Homo sapiens: one gene and its partners. The protein of the gene in region 1 interacts with the protein of each later gene in a pairwise test. Each region holds a gene or a part of one and is shown on either strand. Other genes may lie near its edges.

Region 1 (3,500 bases):
AAGTCAGTTACAGCACACAATTCCTCAGTGACAAAGTTAACAGTTCAAGACTGCTGCTACCTTAATATTTTTACATAGGAACAGCAAGCAAATGGTACTTTTCACCTTTCGCTCAGTTGCTTATCATTGACTGGAAAACACTGTAGTATCCCGCAAATGACTGCTACTTTTCATACAACAAAGGCTGATTTTGTTTAATCCTTTGTCAGTTAAAAAAAAAAAAAAAGGCCAGGTCTTTTGATGTCAGGAAATGCAGAAGCAAGCAAAGTCCACCAAGTAGCTAAATGAATCAATTACATTTATGTTTTTAAAACAGGTCCAAAGCCTAAAATAAGTAACCCCATAGCAAGTTTATTTTAGTATGTTTGTACTCTCCAAGATAACAGACTTTTCCCTTTTTTAACAATAGACATCTAATTAGCATAACATTTTCAAAATTAATTTCCTGTGTTTTGGTGAGAATCTTTAGACTGGGGCATATGGGAGGGGAAGCAGGGAAATAATTATTAAAAAGTACTCGTCTGCAGAAGAAACAGGACTATGTAATTCTTACGCAAATGTTTGTTAACTCCCTCTGGCACAAAAACAGTGATGTCATTCTAGACAGCAGTAGAGCAGAGTTATAATGAACATCAAGTTTTTAAATCACTGACAACTTAAGGAAATTAAGAATATGACTTAAAAATCTCCTCTCCCCAGAGTACTAAATCTGTGCAAGAGGAATGTGTGCCCATCTGGGGTTATATACATATTCAGCGTCAACAAAACTTAAGTCATTTTTCCCTGCACAACAGGAAAAGATGTTGTTGTTTTCCCTTAGAACTCTGGGCAATGAAAGCCATGACTTTAAATGGCTCTGTATAAAAACACAAGAAGGGTGGGTCATGTTCTATTAGTAAAAGCAGCTGAACACCAAGAACTTCTCTTTCTTCAAGTAAAATCTAAAAAGTAATCTCATCTTACTTTTGACAACTATCTTTGCTTCACTTTCTCTAAAATACAGATTAATACCTTTAAAGAGGGTATAAAATGAATTTATAAATTGGCATTTGCAATGTGACTCTCACACCAAAAGTAATCTCACACATTATTTTTTCCCCTGTAGTATGCACTAAATAAAATATCCAAATTTGATTCTGCTGAGAGCAACAATATAAACTATTTTCACTGTAATATCAACAGTATTTATCAACAATATCAATAATATTTACTATACTAAGATTTTTTAAATTTCATTTCCTAATCTCTTAGCAATAAAATATAGTATGACCATTTCTTCAGTTTTAAAATTACCTGAAATTGACTGGAAGACCAACTCTATAGCTACATGAAATTGTAAAAGGGCTGCAAAACTTGAAGCAGTATGAGCATACCCCTTTCTATTAACATTTAACATAACTAAGGGAAGCTGCATATATTTCATCCCACCTTTACTAAATGCCACGATTCAAATTATAGGTCAACATCCAAACTAAGAAATACAATCACAACAAAACCAACATAACATTCTAAACAAAGGGCAGTTCAGCCAAGCTGTCATAAAGAGTTCAGATTTCTACAACCTAAACAGTTGAAAAACTGCTTAACTATTTAGATTTTTTTTAATTGTTACCTATCAGGAATACACCTACTGTTTCACTTTCTACTTATGCCACATTTATCTTAAGTTTTACACTTCTGGATCTTTCAACCGTTAGAGATCAACCATTAAATTACTTCAACAAGTAGAAATAGTAACACCGCTCCCAAACAGCAATTTTTGCATTGCTAGACACTTATCTAGTTGGCAGATTTATACCATTGTTCATTCTTAGTTCCTTAAATGTAAAAAATACCCACAGAATGGTAGCATACCTCTAAATTAGTTTAAATATGGTACAAAGTTATTTTTAGTTAGGTTCAAGTTTTAAAAAGGCACTAATTGTTCTTTTTAAAGGCTAATCTACTCAAGTTCCTCATATTAAAAAAAAAGTTAATTTGTCTCTTTTGGAAAAAAGAAATGTTATTTATGTAATGCTCAAGCAAAAAGGGTGTTCAAATAATAGATCTGACATCAAATCAGGGTTAGGATCATACTTATTGTTCATAAAAGTAAGTTTGACATTTATTCTAATGATGGTCCTTTCAAACACTAGTATGGTTAAATGTCATTTATATGCACTTTCAAATATAATTCTTATTTTAAAAATACTCCTATCCTCTACTATGCAAAGTAGAAAAGGAAGAAAACCCCCACAAGCAATTATAAACATTTTTATCCATGAAAAAATATATACAAGAAATATTCACATAACATTTAAGATTTGTCTATTCCCTCCTTGCATGCTAGAAAGATGCAAAGACAAACACTTCCAAATACTCAGACAGATCATTCCCCAGTTGTAACTTTCATCATAGTTCTCAAAGCAGTATGGTGAGGTCAGCTCACAAACAGCTTAAGTAGCAAAACTAGAAATTGGTGGTAGTAGTATCAGGCTACATAACAGCCTCTCTAAAGAAGATGAAGTAAGAGAACTAAAATGTGCTGGCAACACGCCAAAAGACTGGATGGAATATAGCTTTGAGCAACAAATACTCAGAGCTTACAGTATATAGCAATTCATCATCTCTTATCCTGTAGCTTGACTTTCCTTGTTTTAAACCAAAAATAGCCATGTATAAGAGGTATTTAACACTACAAAATGTGTCCATACTTATGAAATGAAAGATATCTGGGTCTGCAATGATTTGTTTAACTAAATACATACCCTAAAAAAAAAAAATCTGACTTACATTCTGTGTGAAGATGAGGAAGGTAAAATGGATAAAAATACATTGATATTATTATGCATAAAATAGCCTTTATTCTCTAAGGATTATACTACCCTCAAGCATAATCTTTAAGGTTTGGGTTTTCTATATTTTTAGTTCTGAGTGTCTCTTCAACTGGCTGGTATTTAGAATTAGACAACCTTCTCAATATATTTAATGAAGAATTAATCCTGTCAGATCAGAGGACGTGATTTTGGTCAGATATAATTTTTTTGACCTTAGTCAAAATATATGTTACTTTTATAATTTCATCTTACATGGATCATATATTAAAATAGGATAATAAACTCATTCTTAAGTCTCTAACACTTTCTAAAATACTTTTTTTTCTAAGAAACCAAAAGAAAAAAGTTATTTTAGGCCAGAAAAAAGAATCAGATTCAATTCAAATCAATACACATTTAATAGCTATTTTGTGCCAGACATTATACTGAGAATGAGGAAACAAAGATAATATATATACATGGTCTCCCAGAGCTGACAATCTGGCTGGGAAGACCGACCCATTTAAACACACCTACACACTCAATGTGCTTTACTAGCTGTAGGAACAAAAGCCCTACTATCGCCAAGGAAAGAGTGAATGAGTCTGCCCCAGGGGCTGAAAAAATCTTCAGAGGCAAAGTAAGAGTAGAGCTATGTCTTGAAGGATAAGAATTTCACAAGGAAAAGAGGAATATTGCCAGCCA
Region 2 (3,500 bases), on another chromosome or scaffold:
CCTTGCTGATGGGGTGGATGAGATTCCTTTGGGAGGCTGGGGCAGAAAAAAGATTAAAAACCACTGGTTTAAACACTTTCATGCTACATAGGTCTCTGTTTGCAGGACTTCTGCATTTGGTTGCTTTTTAAAAAGAAAGGTGTTGTTTCCTTGGGTTTTCTCTTAAACTGCTTTCCATCTGTCTGTATTTTACAGAAATATGAAATGATAAAGACAGAAGAAATTCCCAATTTGGAAAATTCTAATTTTTCTACTAAAGTCATAAAAGACATTGCACAGAATATTTTATCATTTTTGAAATCTAATTGTACCAAAGAAGGACATACCTATTGGCTCTTTAAAGGTAAGCTATTAATACTTCTTGAGTGAACAATAATTGATTTGGGTAACTGCTGTGAAATGAGTCTTCTTTGTTTTTCTTTTCAGCAAGTGGCAGCGATATAGTGAAGCTCTATGACCTCACTACTCTTTGTGAAGAAACTGAAGACAAATACCAAAATCCATTCACAATGCCGGTAGCCATTCTCTTGTACAAGTGAGTGCTTTAAGAATTTAAGATGAAGAAGTAGCCTATTATATAAAGTTTTAAAGCATACAGTCACAGTTTCCAAACCAAGGCTTTTAAATGCTTTTAGGTTTTCATAGTAGGGGGAAAAATACACGTACACATTGTACCAAATATTACTCAGCTTTCTTATGCCACCATAGTATAAACGTTTTGGGGGTTGTGGGTAAAGTGTAAAGTTTAGTATTTTGTTGTTTCTTATAGCTCTTTGTTGGAAAGAAACAAGAGCACTCCTAGACTTGAGTCTTGCAGACAACGATGAAATGGGCAGTAAAGTTGATATAAACTCTTTTTTTAGGGTTGCTTGCAACATGATGATGAAGAAGAATCAAAATAAGAAACACTATGGAACTATTAGAACATTGCTTCTTAATTGTCTGAAATTACTGGACAAAAGTAGGCATCCTCAAGTAAGATTAACATTTATGTATTCTCTAAAACAATCCTAGCATTCTAATAGGAGATTGTTACCTAGACAGTAAAGCCTCCTGATTCATATTCCGTAACTGCCCTATTCAGTGTGGTAGCCATTAGCACATGTGGCTGTTGATCACTTAAAATGTGCTTTGTCTGAATTGACATGTGCTGTAAGTGTAAAATACACACTGAATTTTGAAGATTGGATGTCTGTACCTATTACATGTTGAAATGCAATATTACATATATTGGATTAAATATATTTAAGTTGATTTCACAGATTCTACTTTTTAAATGTAGCTACTAGAAAATTTAAAATTTCTGTATGTGACTCATGTTACATTTCTCTCAGACAGCACTGCTCAATGAATTTAGAATTCATGTAATTCTAACAGTAGTGCCCTTAGTTCTTTGTTTTGTCGCTATTAGACCTTGTTACCACTTTGTTAATATAAATAGGGTTCACATTCCACACTTCAGGATATTAAAGCATCTCTTAAATAAAGGCCAGTAAAATTTCTTTTAAAGAGAAGGGGAAAAAGCATCTCTTAAAATATTCCCTCAGTCATGCTCCCAACAGTTTTACACCATCCTTACCCTCGGTTGTCTGATTGACAACTTTATTTTTCACTGTTAAGGCTATTTGTTGTATCCTGTTCAAATCAGTAAAGGTATGTAAGATACGCAATTTTTCTTTGAAGAGCCAAAGTAATTTTAATTGTAGCCACATTTGATTTAGAGATAAAGATTATCCTAGAGACCAAACTCAGAAATGTTTTTGAAGAAAAATAGTAAAACATTTTGTTTCTGACTGAAATACCTAATTGCTGACTGAGGTGGCAGTGTTTAGTGGAACTTGAGTGGTTTATTTGGATGTTAGAAATGGTGTTAAAGACTATTGTCTGTGATTAAGAACTGATAAATAGTAGAATGGGTTAAATGGTCATATATAAATGCTAATTTTAAGAGATATCAGAATGGACTTTTCCCTTTTTAATGTAATGGTTTTTTTTTTCTAGAACCATAGATTATATGATAAATATTAGTTACCTATTATAGAGAAACTTGAATTAATTTATAGTTTGTAAAGAAAAATTCTGGTTTCTCACTTGGCATAGGGTGGTATTAAATTTTTGTTAATATTTTAGTTATGACACTCTGTACTCAAAAGCTTTTGTTTGTCTCCAGTGAAATTCAGTTGACACCTTTTAAGAGGGAGGGCTCAGGGTGGAGTAATTTCGGGAAATAGGAAATGCATCAGCCTATAAAGATTTTGCAGAGCATACCCAGAGTATCAGTAGCTTTGAACTGGGAACATTTCTGTGTGTGTTACAGTCTATATGGTGGAAACAGCCTGTGTGCAGACCTCCTCCTAAAATTCGTTAGTATGGTAGTAAAATTCATGTATTTTTTGATGACAGTAATTTACACATATTTCTCTCTTTTTCATAAGATTATTGCTTCCGCCAATTACATGCTTTCAGAACTTTTTCAATTGGATGAACCTAAAAAGGAAGAAAATTCAGAATCTCCTTTAAATGAGAATTCTGATGAAAGTTATAGTGAAGAGGAGGAAGAGATGCCCGACAGTGATGAAAATGGATCCTATAGCACCAGCTCTGATCCATCAGATGATAGCAAAGCAGTAGCTATAATCAAGTCTGTTGGAGAACTATCAGTACCAGAAAAATACAAATCTATTCATCAAATCAGAGTAAGCCTTTAGAATTTATATTAAATTTTTATCAAGGAAACATAATTGTTAATCGAATATAGTTAGCCTTTCAAAAGATACCATTACTTCAATAAACCTTTCATGGTCTAGCATCTAGTAATCATTAGTTTTCTGAATTCTTAAAGTTGGTTTTATAATTGTTCGAGGGTAACTGACCCACATTATGCAAGCCTATAGTGGACAGGTGTGTAAACCAGGTGTCTGTCTATTCTTATGTGAAGGATTTTCCTTTCCAGTGACCAGTGTGTAGTCATAGTCATGTCTCATTACTAGGGCACTTCTATCCGGTGTTGGGGTTGCTGGGAAATGACATATATAGATTGCTTGGTGAACATAGAGTAGAGAAGGGGGTGGCTCTTGGAACTGTATATGGTGAGCTCTGGTACATTATCCCTGTGCTATATAGGACAGTACTTTTTTCGTGACTCTTGTGGTCATGTCTGTTGTATTGGACATGTCTCTGCCCTGGAGAGGGCCAGACAGATTTCTCCCTGTGTGGATTGCACTGACTCTACCATCAGTGTATCTCCAGGCAGTATATACCTTTCAACATACCGTCTCCCTATGATTAGATCCAGGCCAGCCTTAAGAGTTCTGGCTGTTCCCTGAACTGAAATACAGTCGTATTTACAGATAATCTCTTAATTTAAGCACTGAGTGTAACTTTCAGATGGAAACTCTAAGCAAGTTTTTGAGGGGCTATGTCTGTCACCTTAAAACATTGACCATCTTTCTGACCTTCACTTGCTCCATTGGTTTGCCGTGGCCATGCTGGGTTTTTTT
Region 3 (3,500 bases), on another chromosome or scaffold:
TGACCATTCATTCTAGACTACATCTTCTCTAGAGTCACAAGAACAGAGACCTCATCTATGTACTTCTGTGTATGGAGAACACAGCACTCCCTGCGCAAATACCTGAAGCCAAGGAATTTTTAAGATGACTAGTAGAGTTCCCACCTATTCTCCATTTATGCATACAGTCAAGGAGCCAGCAGTTCCTTGAGGCACTGTAGTTTGGTAAGGATGAAACAGGGGCAGCTACAGGGCTGCTACCTAAGATTTCACTGCTTCAAAAAGCCTGAAAAATCTTTGGTCTTGCGAACCGATCCAGAACTAGAGGTACTCAGAAAGGGGGCTGAATTCACTTACACTCAGGCTGATTTCAACACTGCCCTTAACATAGACTAAAAAACAAATTATAAAACACCTGTCAACCACATCCTCCACTTCCTAAAGTCATGGGAGTGAATTTGTGGGTATTAGGAAGAAGCTTATGCAGCTTAGTTTCTAACTCCAGTTCTAATTCTTGGCATCACCAACAACTCTGTTCCTTTGCTTCTAATTCCCACCTCTCCTTTTTGCTTCTCGTTGCCACTTTCTGTTTTCAGGCCTGACCTTTGCCAACAGCCTCCCAGGCAGCCTCCCTGCCTTTGTTTGCACCATCCACTCCTTCCCCTCACCCACTAGAACACAAGCACTCCTCAATCAGACCTTCAAAAATACTCCCTGCTATTCATGACATAAAGATGGCAACAACAGAAACTGGGGGCTCTTAGTGGGGTAGGAAGGGAGGTAAGGGTTAAAAAACTATCGGATACTATGCTCAGTACCTGGAAGATGGGATTAATCATACCCAAAACCTCAGCATCACACAGTGTACTCTCCGAATCTAAAATAAAAGTTGAAATTTAAAATAAACAAAAAACAACAACACCTGGGTTCAATGGCTCATATCTGTAATCCCAACACTTTGGGAGGCCGAGGTGGGCAGATCACTTGAGGTCAGGAGTTCAAGACCAGTCTGGCCAACGTGGTGAAACCTGTCTCTACTAAAAATACAAAAATTAGCCAAGCATGGTGACACGTGCCTGTAATCCCAGGTACCCAGGAACCTGAGGCAGGAGAATTGCTTGAACCAGGGAGGAGGAGGCTGCAGTGAGCCAAGATCACGATACACTACAGCCTGGGCAACAGAGTGAGACCTTGTCTCAAAAAAAAAAAAAAACACCAAAAATACCCCGTGCATGTTTTGCCTCTCCTGTTTATCAATCCCCATCACCTTTCCTTTGCCAGGGAAAATGAATAAGACCCTCAGCCAGGCCTGAAAGGCTGTCCCTTGCCTTTCCACCTTTAGTTGCCAGCTAATTATGAGCTATGATTACGTCTGTGCATTCCAACTAGAAAATATCATCTTCTACCCCATATGAACCTAAGAGGAGAGATTCCTCTGAGAAGTTTCCCCCGGCACAGAAAAGTACCCATGAATGAATGAATGAAGTAACTTTCCCACTCACTGTTTAAGGCCTGTATCACACTCTAGCTAGAACAATCACTAGACATCAATTTTTTCTCCTTTCTAATGTGGACATCTTAGCTTCTGGAGAGCAGGGTCTATTCCAAAAGTCTTTCTTTGAATATGCAACATATCTGGCATGGTGCCTTGCATACAGTGGACACTCAATATGTGTTTATGGACTGATCAACCATATAAAGCTCCAGGCCTCTGGCCAAAACAGGCTACAGCTATAGCTACTGAGAAGAATTTCTTATTGTTTTCAGCAAGCACTAGCTATGTCAGAGCCTACAGTAGTAAGAAAATAAACTATCCCTTGATACTGATGCTTTACAGGAAATCAGAAGCTGTGGATATTTGGAGAAAACAATAACAAAGAAAATTAATCTTTCTAAGCTCCAAAAATTATTCAACATTTAGTTTAATCCTGGCATTTGATAGAAAGCTCAAGTCATGTTCTCTTTCATCTAAACAAATTTTCATAGGAAAATACTTCCCTTTGACTATGCTACAGCTACTTCTGATTTCTCTAGAGCTGGAAAGTAAACAGGACTGGTGCTACCCTCGGCTTCACGGAGCTAATGCCTTTTCCAAAAGGAGTGAAACATACACTTCTCAGCACTCCAGATGGAGTAGATAGGAGTGAGTATTGGCCCACTCCCATTTCTATATCACAGTTCCCTCTTTCTATTATTAGTTTTCTTGAGAATATTATTTACTATTCAGTTCTGAGCTATTTCCTTTGCCTTCTGATGAACAGCTAAGCAGCCAGCTTGATAATAACCTTGTGATCCAGCTTCTTCAAATCTGCCTCACTAAGACTTGGGCTTTCTTTTGCAAAACACTAGGTGTCCTTTTAACATTGCCACCGGCCACCAGAAATTATCCAAGTGTCTAAGTGGACTTTTAAAAGGTTAAGTCCACTTCGTAGCACACCAACCAAAATTTCAATCTTATGCCTGAAGACTATCAAGTACTGTATCTACAGTTAAATAATTGTTTTAATTTGTTATTTTGCTTCACTGCAGAGCAGGGTGGTGGGCGGGTCGGTGGTTGGGTTAGGAACCAAGGAGGGAAATTAATGCAATGAAGAAAACAAATCTACAGAGATTCATCCCGAATCAGCCCCCAACTGGGATACTGGGTCAGAGCAGCCTGAAGTGTTGGTATATGCTCAGCAGTCCAAAGACATGGTTCTCAGGAATCCAGTTCCTTACAACATAACCCTAACTAGAATCTCCCTCATCCACCCCTTCCAGGACCACACATTCTAAGCAAAGAATGTCAACTAGCCAAAAGAAAAGGAAAGCAGGCCGATTTTGAACACTTTATGTCTGTGTGACCTTGAGAAAACTATCTAACTTCACTGGGGTTTCTTCATCTATGGTATATTTCATCCTCATAAAACCTCATGTGGAATTAAAATCCCCATGAGCAGATGAGAAAACCGAGAGACAGAGAGTTTAACAATTGGCCAAAGCTGCCCAAATTATCAGAATCCAAATTCTTTATCTTTCCACTTCTCAGGGCCCCTGCACTGCCCTGCCTCCCAAATATCTAAACACAAACAAGTCAATCAGTGCTAGGACCCGGCCACAGGCCCCTGAAAAGTAAAGAACTGATGCTGCCATCTCCTGTGTCCACAGCTACAATAACACCTGGTAGCCTTACAAATATTTAGATGCAATTTCAAAGTCAGCTCATAGAAAGAGGCATAAAAAAGAAAATGTATTATGGTCTTAATTCCCCTACATTTATAGTTCTCAACTGAGAATGCCAAGCCCTCAGACGCTCCCCCACGCCCTTAACAAAAAAAAATACTTCTTTTCTTCCAGTTAAGCCAAAATAAATATATGTACCCATCATTTATTCAATCAACCACATTTATGGATTACTATGGTGTCCAAGGAAGCTCTGAGCCAAAATAAAAAAGAGAAGGGAGAAGGCTGGCCTCTCCAAAGAGTAAAACCACAGCACACCCAGGGTGGGCCAGAAGCCTGGGAGTCCGCTCCTTGCAGCA
Region 4 (3,500 bases), on another chromosome or scaffold:
TCATCATTGGTCAATGAAAACACCTGGAGTCTTATTATCGATGTTAATAACCTCTTTGATATCCACTTCTTCCAGCTTACTGATAGACTCTGAAGGTATATTTTTTTGCTTACGTAATGAGGTCAGACATAATTTTTTCTCACTTGACATACAGAATCCTTCAGTCACTACCTTGTTCATCATCACTGAACATAGTTGCAGGCCAGAGGTTGTGCCAGGAATGCACAATTGTGTCTTTAGTCCCTGTGTTCCAAGTGTTTGCAACAGCATGTATGGCATCTTTCATGCTAAACTCGTTTTGAAAACCTTCTACATCCACATCTCTGTTCACTGTTGCTGGCATGCTGTTCAAGAAAGTGTTTATATGTATTTACTCTTCATCTACCTAACGATAGTCTGGTCACACAGCTGAATTAATGAAGTAATATTTGGGGGAAAGCACGTGGCATAAAGATTATTTTTGATGAGAATTTCAGCTGGAGGATGAAAAGAACAGTTGTCAAAGAATAACAAAATCTTGCAGTCATCATTCAATCCAGCTTCCCTGATATAAAGTGTTTGTGAAACCAATCAGAAAAGATGTCCCTGGTGATCCATGTCCTTTTGTTAGCACATTAATGGACTGGTAAGAAATTCACTCCTTGAAATCAGTGAGGACACAAGCTTTTGCCTATCATAGCAAATTTACACTTGGGCGTGACTGAGTCATTAGCACATCCTAGCAGTTATTCTGTTATTCTTAATTCTTGTAGGGGCTGTCTCATCAGCTATAGTCAATGTTTTTTTGAGTAACAACACCAAACCAGTGATGTTCATCAGTAACATATACTTCTTCTGGTGTCAGATATTCATCAGCGATGACCTTGGCAAACTCTTCAATGAATTTCTCTGCTGCTTTGTAATCAGCAGACGCTTGATCACCACAAATCTTTAAAAATAATGCTGTGTCTTAAATTTCTATAACCAGCCTGTTGAATATTCATGGTTCTCTTCAATTTTCAGTTCATCATGATAGATCTTTGCTTGTTTCATGATCAGCATACCATTAAGTGGCATGTGCTCATGCGACGCTGATGGATCCACTCTTTGACTTCATGGTTGAAATCCTATGCAGTGTTTAATGTTTTGCATTAACTTCTGTTCATCTCTTCCAAAGCAGAACTTCAACAGTTTATCCTTCTGTTTCTTCAGGTCATATATTGTGGTCATTCCAACACCATCCTTTTCTATAAGACATTTTACACTTAGGTTGCTGGTGTAGTTTCTCCAAGTTTGACTTTCTGGGCTATTGATAAACAGAAATGTTTCCTCTTTTTCTTATCACTGCTACCCACAGGGGTATCTTCAGGTCTTTTTGATATTTTCAACAATATCTTTACATCACAAAGCAGAGAAAAAGCAAAAAAATACAGTGAGTAATGCATGTAGGTCTTGGCCCCATGTGGGGTCTCGTGGGGAATCTGCCATTGGTACATGTATCATTTTATTACTCCTTGTGAGCATGCTTACATGGGGGAATCTGGGTGTGCATGGGAAAGATATAGTGCAGCTGAAGAGGGCTGAGAGGATCTTTTTTCCCCTTGGGGATGCTAAATAAACTGTATGGTATGAGCTTGTGTTTTAGCTGTGACCCATCATATGAAGTCAGGTGTAAAATTTTCCATTTGTGGTATCATGTCAGGGGTCAAAAAATTTTGGATTTTGGAGCATTTTTGATTTTGAAATATTTGGATTAGGGATATTCTACATGTATATCCAATACCTACTTGTAAGCAGAAGATTAGCTCTCAATAATCATTTACTGAATGAACAGATACAAATTAAAATATATGTGAAAATACAATATAAGTAGAATAACATGCAAGTAGTAATGAAACATCTTCAACTAATATAAGAATTAGAATCCTTCATAGCTAAATAATTTGCAGACATCAGTAAGAAAATTTCGAACTCTAATATCTAAGAAAAAAGAGTACAAAGAGACAGTTCACCAAAAAATACACAGAAAAGCAATTAAGCATAATATTAATGAAAGGTATAGAAATCAAAACTAATATAATACTATTTTTCTGTCTATAGCAAATATGAAAAGATTCTACCTCAAGTTGACATACACCACTGGACACACACTACTAGAACAATTTTGAATAATACTTTTCCGGAAAATACTTTAGCAATATATATGAACAGCCATATCAATGCTTATTTCTTTTGATCCAGTATTCATTTAATACATGGAGTTTAATTCAATAAATATTTACTGGGTGGCATTTACATGTCAGTTACTGTAATTTTAATTCTGGAAATCTAACCTACAGAAATAAGTAAAAATCAGAAAATAACTTGATGTAGAAAGATGTTCAATACATTATTATTTAGAATAAAGGAACACTGACAATGACCTGGATGTGCAGGGGTGAGGAGAGTTCAGGTTTTAAATGGTGCTTTAACAATTACATAATACGTTAGCATCTGAGAATAGGCATACAAGAAAAAAAATCACTGGGAACAAAGATCAGAGAAAAATGTTTAAACTAAAACATACCTTCTTCAATATAAGAAGTACCCCTTGTAGTTTGTTTTGGCTCACTTGAACTTAGCAGGACACTTTGTCCAAAATTCTACAAAAATAGAATATTGAATTAAAACATATTTCCATATTTAAAATTCATAATATGTACATGAACTTTTAAAAAACTTTTAATTGCTGTATATATTTTTAGCTACAATTGTTCATGTAACTTGTATATTACATTTTTTAGAGCTGAATACAAGAATTATTATAATAAAGAATTTCTATGGTAATGGAATATTATGAAAAATGTTTTATGTCCACAAAAAAATTTTCAGATTATGATATTGTCCTGGATATTTGGAAGAGGTAAAGTGAGTTGGATGGTAATCAAAAGTGCTAATTAGGCTGACACGGTGGCTCATGCTTGTAATCCCAACACTTTGGGAGGCCGAGGTGGGCAGATGACAAGGTCAGGAGATCGAGACCATCCTGGCTAACACGGTGAAGCCCTGTCTCTACTAAAAATATAAAAAATTAGCCAGGAGTTGTGGCACGTGCCTGTGGTTCCAGCTACTTGGGAGACTGAGGCAGAAGAATCACTTGAACCCAGGAGATGGAGGTTGCAGTGAGCTGAGACTGTGCCACTGCACTCCAGCCTGGGTGACAGAGCGAGACTCTGTCTCAAAAATAAAAAAAAGTGCTAATTAAAGAAAAGGTAAAAAATTACCTTAAAGTTTCTAACCTAGTTGGTTTGTCATTGTAAGGGTGAATCATAACTATTAGCTAAAAGCATCTGACTACAGCTAATGCCAAGGATAGGTAATTATCTTACGTGACAAAACTTAAAACACAAATAGCTGCCCCAATGCTGCACAGAACCTTGAAAACGGAAGTCTCAGAACACTGGCAAAAAGTGTACACATCTAACACTTTCTGAGAGATACCAACTTCCCTTCCCTGAATATGGTCTACCTCCTTCTTTATT
Region 5 (3,500 bases), on another chromosome or scaffold:
GTCAATTCTAAGCCAAAAGAACAAAGCTGGAGGCATCACGCTACCTGACTTCAAACTATACTACAAGCCTACAGTAACCAAAACAGCATGGTACTGGTACCAAAACAGAGATATAGATCAACGGAACAGAACAGAGCCCTCAGAAATAACACCACATATCTATAACTATCTGATCTTTGACAAACCTGAGAAAAACAAGCAATGGGGAAAGGATTCCCTATTTAATAAATGGTGCTGGGAAAACTGGCTAGCCATATGTAGAAAGCTGAAACTGGATCCCTTCCTTACACCTCATACAAAAATTAATTCAAGACGGATTAAAGACTTAAACGCTAGACCTAAAACCATAAAAACCCTAGAAGAAAACTTAGGCAATACCATTCAGGACATAGGCATGGGCAAGGACTTCATGTCTAAAACACCAAAAGCAATGGCAACAAAAGACAAAATTGACAAATGGGATCTAATTAAACTAAAGAGCTTCTGCACAGCAAAAGAAACTACCATCAGAGTGAACAGGCAACCCACAAAATGGGAGAAAATTTTCACAACCTACTCATCTGACAAAGGGCTAATATCCAGAATCTACAATGAACTCAAACAAATTTACAAGAAAATAACAAACAACCCCATCAAAAAGTGGGCGAAGGACATGAACAGACACTTCTCAAAAGAAGACATTTATGCAGCCAAAAAACACATGAAAAAATGCTCACCATCACTGGCCATCAGAGAAATGCAAATCAAAACCACAATGAGATACCATCTCACACCAGTTAGAATGGCAATCATTAAAAAGTCAGGAAACAACAGGTGCTGGAGAGGATGTGGAGAAATAGGAACACTTTTACACTGTTGATGGGACTGTAAACTAGTTCAACCATTGTGGAAGTCAGTGTGGCGATTCCTCAGGGATCTAGAACTAGAAATACCATTTGACCCAGCCATCCCATTACTGGGTATATACCCAAAGGACTATAAATCATGCTGCTATAAAGACACATGCACATGTATGTTTATCGCGGCACTATTCACAATAGCAAAGACTTGGAACCAATCCAAATGTCCAACAATGATAGACTGGATTAAGAAAATGTGGCAAATATATACCATGGAATACTATGCAGCCATAAAAAATGATGAGTTCATGTCCTTTGTAGGGACATGGATGAAATTGGAAATCATCATTCTCAGTAAACTATCGCAAGGACAAAAAACCAAACACTACATGTTCTCACTCATAGGTGAGAATTGAACAATGGGAACACATGGACACAGGAAGGGGAACATCACACTCTGGGGACTGTTGTGGGGTGGGGGGAGGGGGGAGGGATGGCATTAGGAGATATACCTAATGCTAAATGACGAGTTGATGGGTGCAGCACACCAGCATGGCACATGTATACATATGCAACTAACCTGCACATTGTGCACATGTACCCTAAAACTTAAAGTATAATAATAATAAAAAAAAAAGAATGAAGTTTTCTAAACACTTTTCATTAGCTTTTAAAGCAAATGAAGAAGGCAACATTTGGATCACTTACACCCTCTCCGAGAAAGACCCCAGCAGAAGCACTGGTAAGGAGGCCCAAGTGCAACATCTGGCCAGGGGCTTTTTACACTTAAGGGAACTTCAGTGAAGTCAATAGCAAATCAGGTGGTGTCTGCAATTTTCTTTCATAAATAATCATACATTGTAAATATTATTTGGTCACAAAGATGTAAGTTTTAGAAGCTTTTGCATATAACATATTGACAATGATCCTCATCATTTTTATTAAGCTATGGACATCATGACTGGAGCATTCTGATTTGTCTCCTGTTCCCTCAAGTTTGTTGAATTAAACTGTTGTGGCTTGCTACTCAAAGAGAGGTCGCCAAGCTAGCAGTACTGCAGTCACCTGGGAGCTTGGCAGAAAAGCAGACTCTGAGATTTCATTGGAGACCTACTGAATTTTGGCAAAGACCCTGGGTGACTGGTATGAACATGAAAGTTTGAGAAGCACAGTTATCCAGCTATCATGTAAATGAACTGCTGTTAGCCAATTACTAAGGCTTATATTTAGTGAGAATAACCAATTAAAAAATGTGACATGTAGCTTTTAAGACACTTCAGAAGGAAATATAACATAATCTGAGGTAAAAGAAAGCATGCCTGTTTCAGTTCAGCCTCATTTAAGATGTCTTCTCGCTTTTTTTTTTTTTTTTTAGTATGACTCATTTCTTTTTCTTCATTCCTGTCGCACATCTTACCTCCTCCTCACTTTGTGAGTCAAACTTACCTTCAAGCAACTTAGGCAATCTCTGTGTGTCCTGAGAAAATGACAATGACAATAGCAGGATTGGGAAACCAGAAAGGCAGAACTTGCCCCACTGACTTTATTAAGTTCAGTTCATGTTCAGTATAACAGTTTAGAGCTTACAGATGTTGCGTCGTGACCATTGACATTTACCACCAACCTATGAGGTTGGCAAAACAAGTAACATCATCATCATTTCCCACTTAGAGCTAAAAAACCTAAGATTTCAGAAGATTCAGTGGCACATCCAGCAGCCCATACCAAACAACAGGCGGACTGTGGTGAGATGCTGGTTCCTGACTCCAAACCTTAACTCCTTCCCTGGACTGAAGCCTCTATCAGCAGGGGTCAGAGAGAATGTGGTTATGAGCATCACTAAGGTCAGCAATAAAGTGCCTGTCTCTTGGATTGGGAGTCTTCTGTATGCAAAATGCTCTCCTATACCTTATGGGAAGGGATAAGGTCAAAGAGTCTGCATCGGAGACTTTGCCTGCCCAACCCCCAGGCCTTGAGCATGATCACATGCTCCGTATGTTTTCTTCCAGAAGAAAGGATTTTCAATCTGCATTTAGAGAGAAGGAAGAAAATGGTATGAGCATGTGGAGGGGCGAGGCCTTTCAAGAAGCATGGAATTCCACCTAGGATTTTGCTTGTATGTTTGTTGCAGATGCCAAGTGGGCATGAGAAAGAAAAGCAATTCAGGAGGGGGAAGAAGTGAGGACTTGCATCTGGTGCTGCTTCACCATGATCATCATTTTCACCATCCTGCTCAAACACTCCCAGCAATCAGACTCTATGTTCAGTACTTCACATTGATTTTCTCAATTACTACTCAGACGTCAATCCTGGAAGGTAGGTATGTGCTCCCATGTTAGAGATGAAAACACTGAAGTAAGAAAGACCACAATATTTGCTCACGGTCACAGAGCTACTAAGAAGTGCAGTGGTTTATACCTCAGTATTTTGGACCTTGGAGCTCAAATATTGAGCGATTAAGGCTACTGTTTCTAATGTTTCATCCGTATCCACATGCCCTGTCGTATGTCCAGGGTCCTTGATTCCACCTCTTAAATCAGAACTGCTGAAGATGGGCTCCAGGCAGCTGGAACCTACACATGACGCTAGTTAATCTGATAAACATTGAAGACAGGGAACTGCTGCTGTAGGTTATTTGACCTCTAACTGTACATACATTGG
Region 6 (3,500 bases), on another chromosome or scaffold:
ATCGTTTGAGGCTGTGGTAAGCTATGATCAAGCCACCGCACTCCAGCCTGGGCAACAGAGCGAGACCCCAACTCTTAAAAAAAAAAAAAGGCTAAACATTTTGCATACATTCTTATCTAATCCTCTCCTCCCTGAAAAATAGATGCTGTCATCTCCATTTCCAGGAGAGATAACCAAGGCTCAGAGAGGTCAAGCAGCCTGCAAGTCACACAGCCAGTAAGCAGCAGAGATGACTTCACACTTCTGTGCCTGGAACTCTCCGCTCTCGGGATGGTCACTGCTCCTGCTGATGCTCTCGGGGCTGCTCATTCTCCAGCTCGTCTCTATCCCAGTCTTGCTTGTAGGGTTCCCTGCCTCCCATGCTGTGCTCCAGCCCGGGGGCTGCCTCCATTCCCATGCAGCATTTCTACCCTCCATGCCTCTGCCTCTCTTGCTGCACTCCCCCATGAGGACTAGAATCACCTGGCTAGGCTGCCTCCCCAGCTAGATTGTGAGCTCCTTAAGGGCAGGGATTGTGTCTCAGCTGCCTCTGTGCTCCCAGTGCCAAGAGCAGTAGCTGGCTCCGGGAAGGTGCTCAGTTAATGTGCTGTTGAATGGAGCCCATATTTGGGTGTATTTACCATACACATGCACGCATGCACACACAACCCAGGTAGAATCAGACCATAGAAGTAGGAGCCTTGGGGTCTGGAAGAGGTCTGGGTTTAGGATCTGAGTCGCCCAGGCCTGGTTATGCCCATCTGCCCACACAGGCCCTTGGGGAGGAGAGCACCTCCTCTCTCCAGATCCAGGCCAGCAGGCACAGCCTGGCATGAGGACATGGCCATCAGAGGTGGCCACCAGGTGGCACCAGCATCCATCTTATGTGCTGGGTGAGTGGCAGGGGGTGTCCCACACTGCCTCTCAGACGGAAGCAGAAACACCTCATTCAACCAGCCTCAGCGCACGTGCCTAATTCTGAGCACGCTAGAGGCCTAGCCAGCAGTCACAAAGTTAGTCACATCCCTGAAGCCCACCCATCTTTTCAGCGAAGAGCAGAGGCTTCTCTAAAGACAGTGGGGTCGGTGCCACTGGGACAGAACCCAGTGGCCCACCCTCCCAGCCGGAGGTAGCTTCTGTTTCTTTTTCTTTTTTTTTTTTTTGAGACGGAGTTTGGAGTTTTGCTCTTGTTGCTCAGGCTGGAGTGCAATGGCGTGCTCTCGGCTCACCGCAACCTCTACCTCCTGTGTTCAAGCGATTCTCCTGTCTCAGCCTCCCGAGTAGCTGAGATACAGGCATGCGCCACCACGCCTGGCTAATTTTGTATTTTTGGTAGAGACGGGGTTTCTCCATGTTGGCCAGGCTAGTCTTGAACTCCCGACCTCAGGTGATCCGCCCGCCTCGGCCTCCCAAAGTGCTGGGATTACAGGCGTGAGCCACCGCGCCCGGCCCACAGGTAGCTTCTCACACCCAAGCCCTCCATGTACTTGACAGTCACGGGGCTCAGGCTATGCGGGCCACATATGGAGCTGACATTTTTTACCTGCCTTGGGGCCCAGCATTAGGGACTGAGGACTAAGCTGTGCCTCTAGTCTCTGGGGGGAGGGAGCAGGGTCCTAGGCCTCTGAAACCTGGGCTGGGAGCTCTGGGGGTCAGCCACCCACATGGCATCCAACAGCCTCTGGAAAGGGGCATCAGGTGGGCACTCACCTGTCAGCCATCTGTGGGATGATGTAATGCCCATTCTTGTGATCTGAACAAAAATAAAAATGCCAAGTCACTCACTAGTGCTGGGTGGCCTCAGCAGCTGGGAGCCCACCTCACTGCCATGAGCAGGGCTGGCACCCAGAAGTGTCAGGGGAAAGTGGGGAGGGCAGGCCACCCCCAAGAATGCTGGGAGCTCGTGGGAGGATGCAGGATGCCCACCCCCACTCCCTAGCCCCAGCGATGCTATGGCCCAGAGCCTGCAGTAATTTCACAGGAGCCAGTTGCCTAGCAACATTGCTCCCCAGCCGCTCTGTCACCATGGCACCTGCTGCCGGGTGCGTCCAGGTCCCACCTGCCCAGCCCCAGCCAGGCCTGTCACAGCCAGGCGCCCCCCAAGCTCTGCTCACCCGGCTTGCGTCCACAGAGGTAGAAGGCCAGCCGGTCAGTGAGCTCATATTGGCACTCAACCAGCCTTTCCGCCAGCTCATGGTGCCCCGCCTGCCTGTGAGGAGGGGGTATGGCTCAGACCTGCAGCAGCAGCCCTCACCCACACCCCCACCCACCCACACTGCACCCTTCAGCCGACCCTCACCTGGCATAGTCAATGGGTGTGCGGCCATTAACATCAGGGGAGCCAGGGTCAGCCCCATACACTACAAGCAGCTCGGCCTGCAGTGTCTGTCCTGCCTTGGCAGCCACGTGCAGAGGTGTGGTGCCCTTCTCTGGGTGGAAGAAGTTGGCCTGGGCACCCAGGGAGAGCAGGCGCAGACATGTCTCCAGGTTGCCTGTCCGCACGCTCGAGTGTAGTTGCTAAGAGGAGCAGAGTGTGCAGTGAATACGCATGTGCGTGAGGCGCACCTCCCCACCCACAAGCTGCACCCTGGCTGCCCCTGGGACACCTAGCAGCTCCAAGGAGGCCTGCCCAAACCAGACTATGTCGGGAGGACAGAGGCTTCCCGCTAGGGGTTAATGCCAATTAATAAACGCTGCCGTCAGTCACCATCTACCACGTGTGCTGTGTGCCCTGCTTAGATACTATTTATGAAGTAGATGCTGTTATTTCTTTCCCATTTTACAGATGAGTAAACTGAGGCTATGAGTGGCTAAGCAACTACCCCCAGGTTTTCCCAGCTTCTGAGTGGCAGCTGTGGGCTTCTAGCCTTGTGTGTCTACTTGGTTGCTGGGGAGCCTCAGCCACACACGGCCTGACCCAACAATCTGCTCTCTCCACCCTGTCTACTGTTACCCTGACCTGGCTGCCTTTGGGGCCCAGGGCTCAGTGGGGACAAAGGAGAGGCCTTCAGAGAGTCGTGGATGGGAAGAAGAGGAGGGGGCCACCCATCTGTTGTAGGGCCCCTCAAACCTTGCTGAGGTCTTTGGCGGTGACTCCATCATCGTCCCGGCAGGGAAGCTTGTGCACAAATGCCAGCATCTGGTACTTGGCCCTGATGAACTCTGACTTGATGGGGCTGCATGGGGCACACAGGAGGAATGGGGAGCATGGTGGGAGAGGGTGGTCACCTTGCCACCTCCCAGGGCCCTGTCCCGGACTGCGCAGTCTCTGCCCACCACCCCTCCAGCCCCACTCACTGGACTTTGTCTTGGGGGTTGGCTTTACGCCGGCCGCTCTGCACTTGTGCGGGGTCCAGCAGGGAGTGCTCCCAGATGGAGTTGGCCCCGTTGCTGGCAAGCGTGTGCACCATCTGCAGGGAAGAGATGCCAAGTGAGAGAGTGCCCACTGCGTGCTAAGCAATGGGGGAAACACTTCCTGAGCGCCTGCTGTGGCTGGCGTAGCTGGAAACGGTACCAAGGGG
Region 7 (3,500 bases), on another chromosome or scaffold:
GTATTTCACAACATCTATTTTTCTCTCTTTTGGGTCATTTTCATTATGAACAAGTATGCTATCATTTCTCCCACTTAAAAGCAAAAACAAAAAACAAAAGAACACTCTTGACATGACCTCATTAAATAGCATCCCATTTCTCACTCTCCATTTACAGCAAAACTCTTCAAAAAAAAAAAGATAACTAGATGTACTATGTTCAGCTACTCTCTTTGCACTTCCATATGTATATTTAAAGACAAGGTCCCATTCTGTCACTCAGGCCTGGGTGCAGTGGTGGGATCATAGATCACAGCAGCCTTGAACTCCTGGGCTCAAGTGATCTTCCTGCCTCAGCCTCATGACTAGCTGTGACCACAGGCATGAGCCACCACGCTCAGCTAATTTTTTTTTTTAAAATTTTTGTATACATGGGGTCTGTTGCACAGGCTGGCTTCAAGCAGTTCTTCTCCCTAGGCCTCCCAAATACGTGCATTTTCTAAATGTTTTAATTGAAGTATAGTATTCTTACAGAAAAGTGCACACACACACACACACACACACACACACGAAGGTGTAAATAAAGCTCAATGAGTTTCCACAAGCATACAGCCAGTACCCAGGTCAGGAAAGAGAATGTCCCCAGCACCCACAAGTCCCTCCGCGCCCCTCTGCTGTGCCTGCTGATCCAAGTCCCAGCAGTGCAGCTCTGCATCGCTGGATGGTTCCCTTCCTCTTGCTCTGGAGTCCGCTCCTCGGTGCTGTCCCTCCCTGCATGCCTGAAGCTGCTCATCAGCGGTCAATGCTCCCACGGGCCCCTCATCACCGCGCCGGTGCTTGATCCCCAGCTCAGGCCTTACACTCCTACCCTCGGCCCAGACGTCTCCCTGGAGCCCCCATGGTTCAGTGCCTCCACGCAGAGGCCGACAGCTCCTGGAGTTGAGAGGCCCCGCTGCAGGTGCTGCCTATCCGGCTGCAGGAAACCCCTGGTCCAGGGCATCCCTCCCTTCCCTCTTCCTTTCACACTGCAACCTAAGCCCAGGGGTCATTCACCCAGAAGACACCCCGCAGCTCCCCACTGCTTATGAAATTCCCAGCCACTCCTGCAGCACAGGACTCCACGGTTCTGCGTTTGACCACTGCCGTCGTCGCCCTGCGCCTCCCCCTCCGCCCTGTTCTCTGAAGGCTCCCGGGAGCATGTGGCCACAGGGGCTTCTCCTCCGCTCAAACCCCCGAGGCTTCTTATCCCAAAGTGGAAGCCCCGCTCGGTCACAGCCTAAAGAGTCTCGGGGTCTGCCCCTGTTGGCCCCGCCTTGTTAGTTACCCCTACCCCCATTCCCCACTCCACACCCGCGGCCCCCAGCCCCGCCGCGCCGGCCCCACCTGCCCCACGTGCTCCCCCCAGGGCCTCGGCACTGCAGGCCTCTCTGTCTGGAAGCTCCTCCCCAAGGGCTCCCCCTGGCTCAACTGGCGGCTTTATCAGAAGACACCATCCTCTCCGCGAGCCCCGCCACGGCCACCCTGTTAAAAACGTTTCTCCCAGTTCCACGCTCCCCATGTCCATCCGCAGCTAATAGCCAGTGAGTAAAACGGAGAAAAGTAAAGCTGACATTGCAAGGAAGAGAGGCAGGCGACGAGCACGTTAGCTCTGACAAGCGGGATTTGGTTTGCTCTGTTCACTGCTGCATGCCTGGCACTTACTGAACACGTGGGAGGTGTTCACTAATCAGTGGGTAAATGAATGGATTCCAAGGGGCTTTGCTATTAGCTAGGTTGCACTCTTCTAGATTTTCAGTACCATAAAAAGATTCTCTTTTTTCCCCTAGTTTGCCCAATTCCCTTTGCTGGTACTATTCATAAAATTCATAATCTGCTTCCTAATACCCTTTTCTCATTTAATTATTGTTATAATGTTGCAGTTAGTAAAGGAAAGAAACATTTTATGAAATGAAATTAGATCAAGACATAATAAATGCTTGGATGCAAAGACATCTGCCAGCACAGTCAACACAGGAACCCTCGGGCCTGCCCGGCGCAGGTCCAGGCCCAATGCCCACCTTGGGGGCAGGGATCTGGCTTTGGTCCCCGGCTGCCCCCATCACATGGGATGGAGTGAAGTGCCATGAAGACCAATGCCACACCATGCTCAGACAGGCTTTCCTCCCCTGCAAGCCTTTCCAAGCAGGGTGGGGGGATGGTGAATTTAGAAGCAAGGACTGTGGTTCTATTTTCATTTGCAAACAGATAAAAGTCAAAGCTACATTGCAGAAAATATGGCTTTAAGGGTTAGAAATATTAATATTTCCCTCATGTGCCCATACTTGCTACCTCTGTGATTTCTGTTACTTATTAAATCCCTTGAAACTTCAGTTTTGTTAATCTGTAAAATGGAGATAATAATTTTCCACCTTCTGGACTCACTGCAAAGATTAAATAAGATAAAGTGTGTGCATTAACTAGCTGACAGCAGCCACTCAGCCAATTATGGGATTCATGTCTATCCTCAGTATCATTCACAAATGTCAGTTCCTAGATGAAGCCACACCACCCTAATCGCACACACCCACATCCTCCTCTGTATGAACTGGTTTACAAAGCGTGCTTGCAATGGGGGCTGGATGGAACATTGTTGGGCAAAATGAAGTTGTAGACAACATGCTGCCCTCATCTGCCCACCCACCCCCACCCCACAGCTCAGGGACAAGCCAGATGCCTCCCCCAGAGAAGGCAGGTGCTTCCGAACCTGCACATCCTGCTAGCTCCAGCCTACTGCTCACCAATGTTGGCTTTAGGCACATCTCTCAATCTCACTGAACCCTGATTTCAGCACCCATGTCATGGAGTTCCTATGAGATAATGCATGTAAGACAGCAATATTCACAACCGAGCAACATCAGAACCCAGGGCATCCCTCCCTTCCCTCTTCCTTTCACACCACAACCAAAGCCCAGGGGTCATTTCTTCCAAAAGACATCCCGCAGCTTCCCACTTCTTATTAGATTCCCAGCCGAGACTGCAGCACAGGTCACCACGGCCCCTCCCGGGTGATGGCAGCAGCATCCATGAGGAGCTGGAGGCCTCCTCAAAATGCAGATTCCTGGGCTTTGCCCCAGAGACTCTGACTGAGCAGGTGTGTGGTGGACCAGACAGTGTGCATTTCTAGCAAGTGCCTAGGGGGTCCAGGACCACATCCTGGAAGCAAGGGTGCATGGCTCCAGCGCTGAACCTGGCGCACAGTAGGTGGTCAGCCAATGTTACCCACCTCACTAACACTTTGATTACTACTGTTATGCTACTTCATGAACATATTTTTAGAATTAGCAAAATCTGCTGGGAAAGGTGTGTCTGTGTCTTTCCAGGTGTTCCTTGGCCTCTGGACCCCCAGCACCTGGAGAACTCAGGTTTCCAGCAGGGCACGACCAGCAGCAGCTGCTCTGCAGGTGCCTCCTGGGAACTTTCACTGGCCTTCATCTCTAACCCTCAGCTAACCGCACACCCTGGAAATCATTTTAACATCACTG

The links.
Region 2: the proteins of PFDN1 (region 1) and EDRF1 interact in a two-hybrid assay, tested with the Homo sapiens proteins (one large-scale study listed by BioGRID and IntAct).
Region 3: the proteins of PFDN1 (region 1) and CCDC85A interact in a two-hybrid assay, tested with the Homo sapiens proteins (one large-scale study listed by BioGRID and IntAct).
Region 4: the proteins of PFDN1 (region 1) and CEP126 interact in a two-hybrid assay, tested with the Homo sapiens proteins (one large-scale study listed by BioGRID and IntAct).
Region 5: the proteins of PFDN1 (region 1) and PTN interact in a two-hybrid assay, tested with the Homo sapiens proteins (one large-scale study listed by BioGRID and IntAct).
Region 6: the proteins of PFDN1 (region 1) and GIT1 interact in binary tests that used the Homo sapiens proteins (3 or more experiments, as listed by UniProt).
Region 7: the proteins of PFDN1 (region 1) and SYNDIG1 interact in a two-hybrid assay, tested with the Homo sapiens proteins (one large-scale study listed by IntAct).

Annotation. Positions count from the first base shown.
Region 1 is NC_000005.10:140,293,102-140,296,601, forward strand, and holds part of PFDN1 (prefoldin subunit 1), read right to left. Parts: intron 1-3,500. UniProt on the Homo sapiens protein: Binds specifically to cytosolic chaperonin (c-CPN) and transfers target proteins to it. Binds to nascent polypeptide chain and promotes folding in an environment in which there are many competing pathways for nonnative proteins.
Region 2 is NC_000010.11:125,733,209-125,736,708, forward strand, and holds part of EDRF1 (erythroid differentiation-related factor 1), read left to right. Parts: intron 1-195; coding exon 196-343; intron 344-426; coding exon 427-535; intron 536-863; coding exon 864-975; intron 976-2,435; coding exon 2,436-2,696; intron 2,697-3,500. UniProt on the Homo sapiens protein: Transcription factor involved in erythroid differentiation. Involved in transcriptional activation of the globin gene.
Region 3 is NC_000002.12:56,186,990-56,190,489, reverse strand, and holds part of CCDC85A (coiled-coil domain-containing protein 85A), read right to left. Parts: intron 1-3,500. UniProt on the Homo sapiens protein: May play a role in cell-cell adhesion and epithelium development through its interaction with proteins of the beta-catenin family.
Region 4 is NC_000011.10:101,981,010-101,984,509, reverse strand, and holds part of CEP126 (centrosomal protein of 126 kDa), read right to left. Parts: intron 2,622-3,500; coding exon 2,546-2,621; intron 1-2,545. UniProt on the Homo sapiens protein: Participates in cytokinesis. Necessary for microtubules and mitotic spindle organization. Involved in primary cilium formation.
Region 5 is NC_000007.14:137,333,734-137,337,233, forward strand, and holds part of PTN (pleiotrophin isoform 1 precursor), read right to left. Parts: intron 1-3,500.
Region 6 is NC_000017.11:29,579,649-29,583,148, forward strand, and holds part of GIT1 (ARF GTPase-activating protein GIT1), read right to left. Parts: intron 3,390-3,500; coding exon 3,277-3,389; intron 3,156-3,276; coding exon 3,050-3,155; intron 2,693-3,049; exon of another isoform or gene 2,497-2,692; coding exon 2,279-2,496; exon of another isoform or gene 2,189-2,278; coding exon 2,094-2,188; exon of another isoform or gene 1,733-2,093; coding exon 1,690-1,732; exon of another isoform or gene 457-1,689; coding exon of another isoform or gene 143-456; intron 1-142. Other genes in the region: TP53I13 (tumor protein p53-inducible protein 13), read left to right, coding at 143-456. UniProt on the Homo sapiens protein: GTPase-activating protein for ADP ribosylation factor family members, including ARF1.
Region 7 is NC_000020.11:24,588,129-24,591,628, reverse strand, and holds part of SYNDIG1 (synapse differentiation-inducing gene protein 1), read right to left. Parts: intron 1-3,500. UniProt on the Homo sapiens protein: May regulate AMPA receptor content at nascent synapses, and have a role in postsynaptic development and maturation.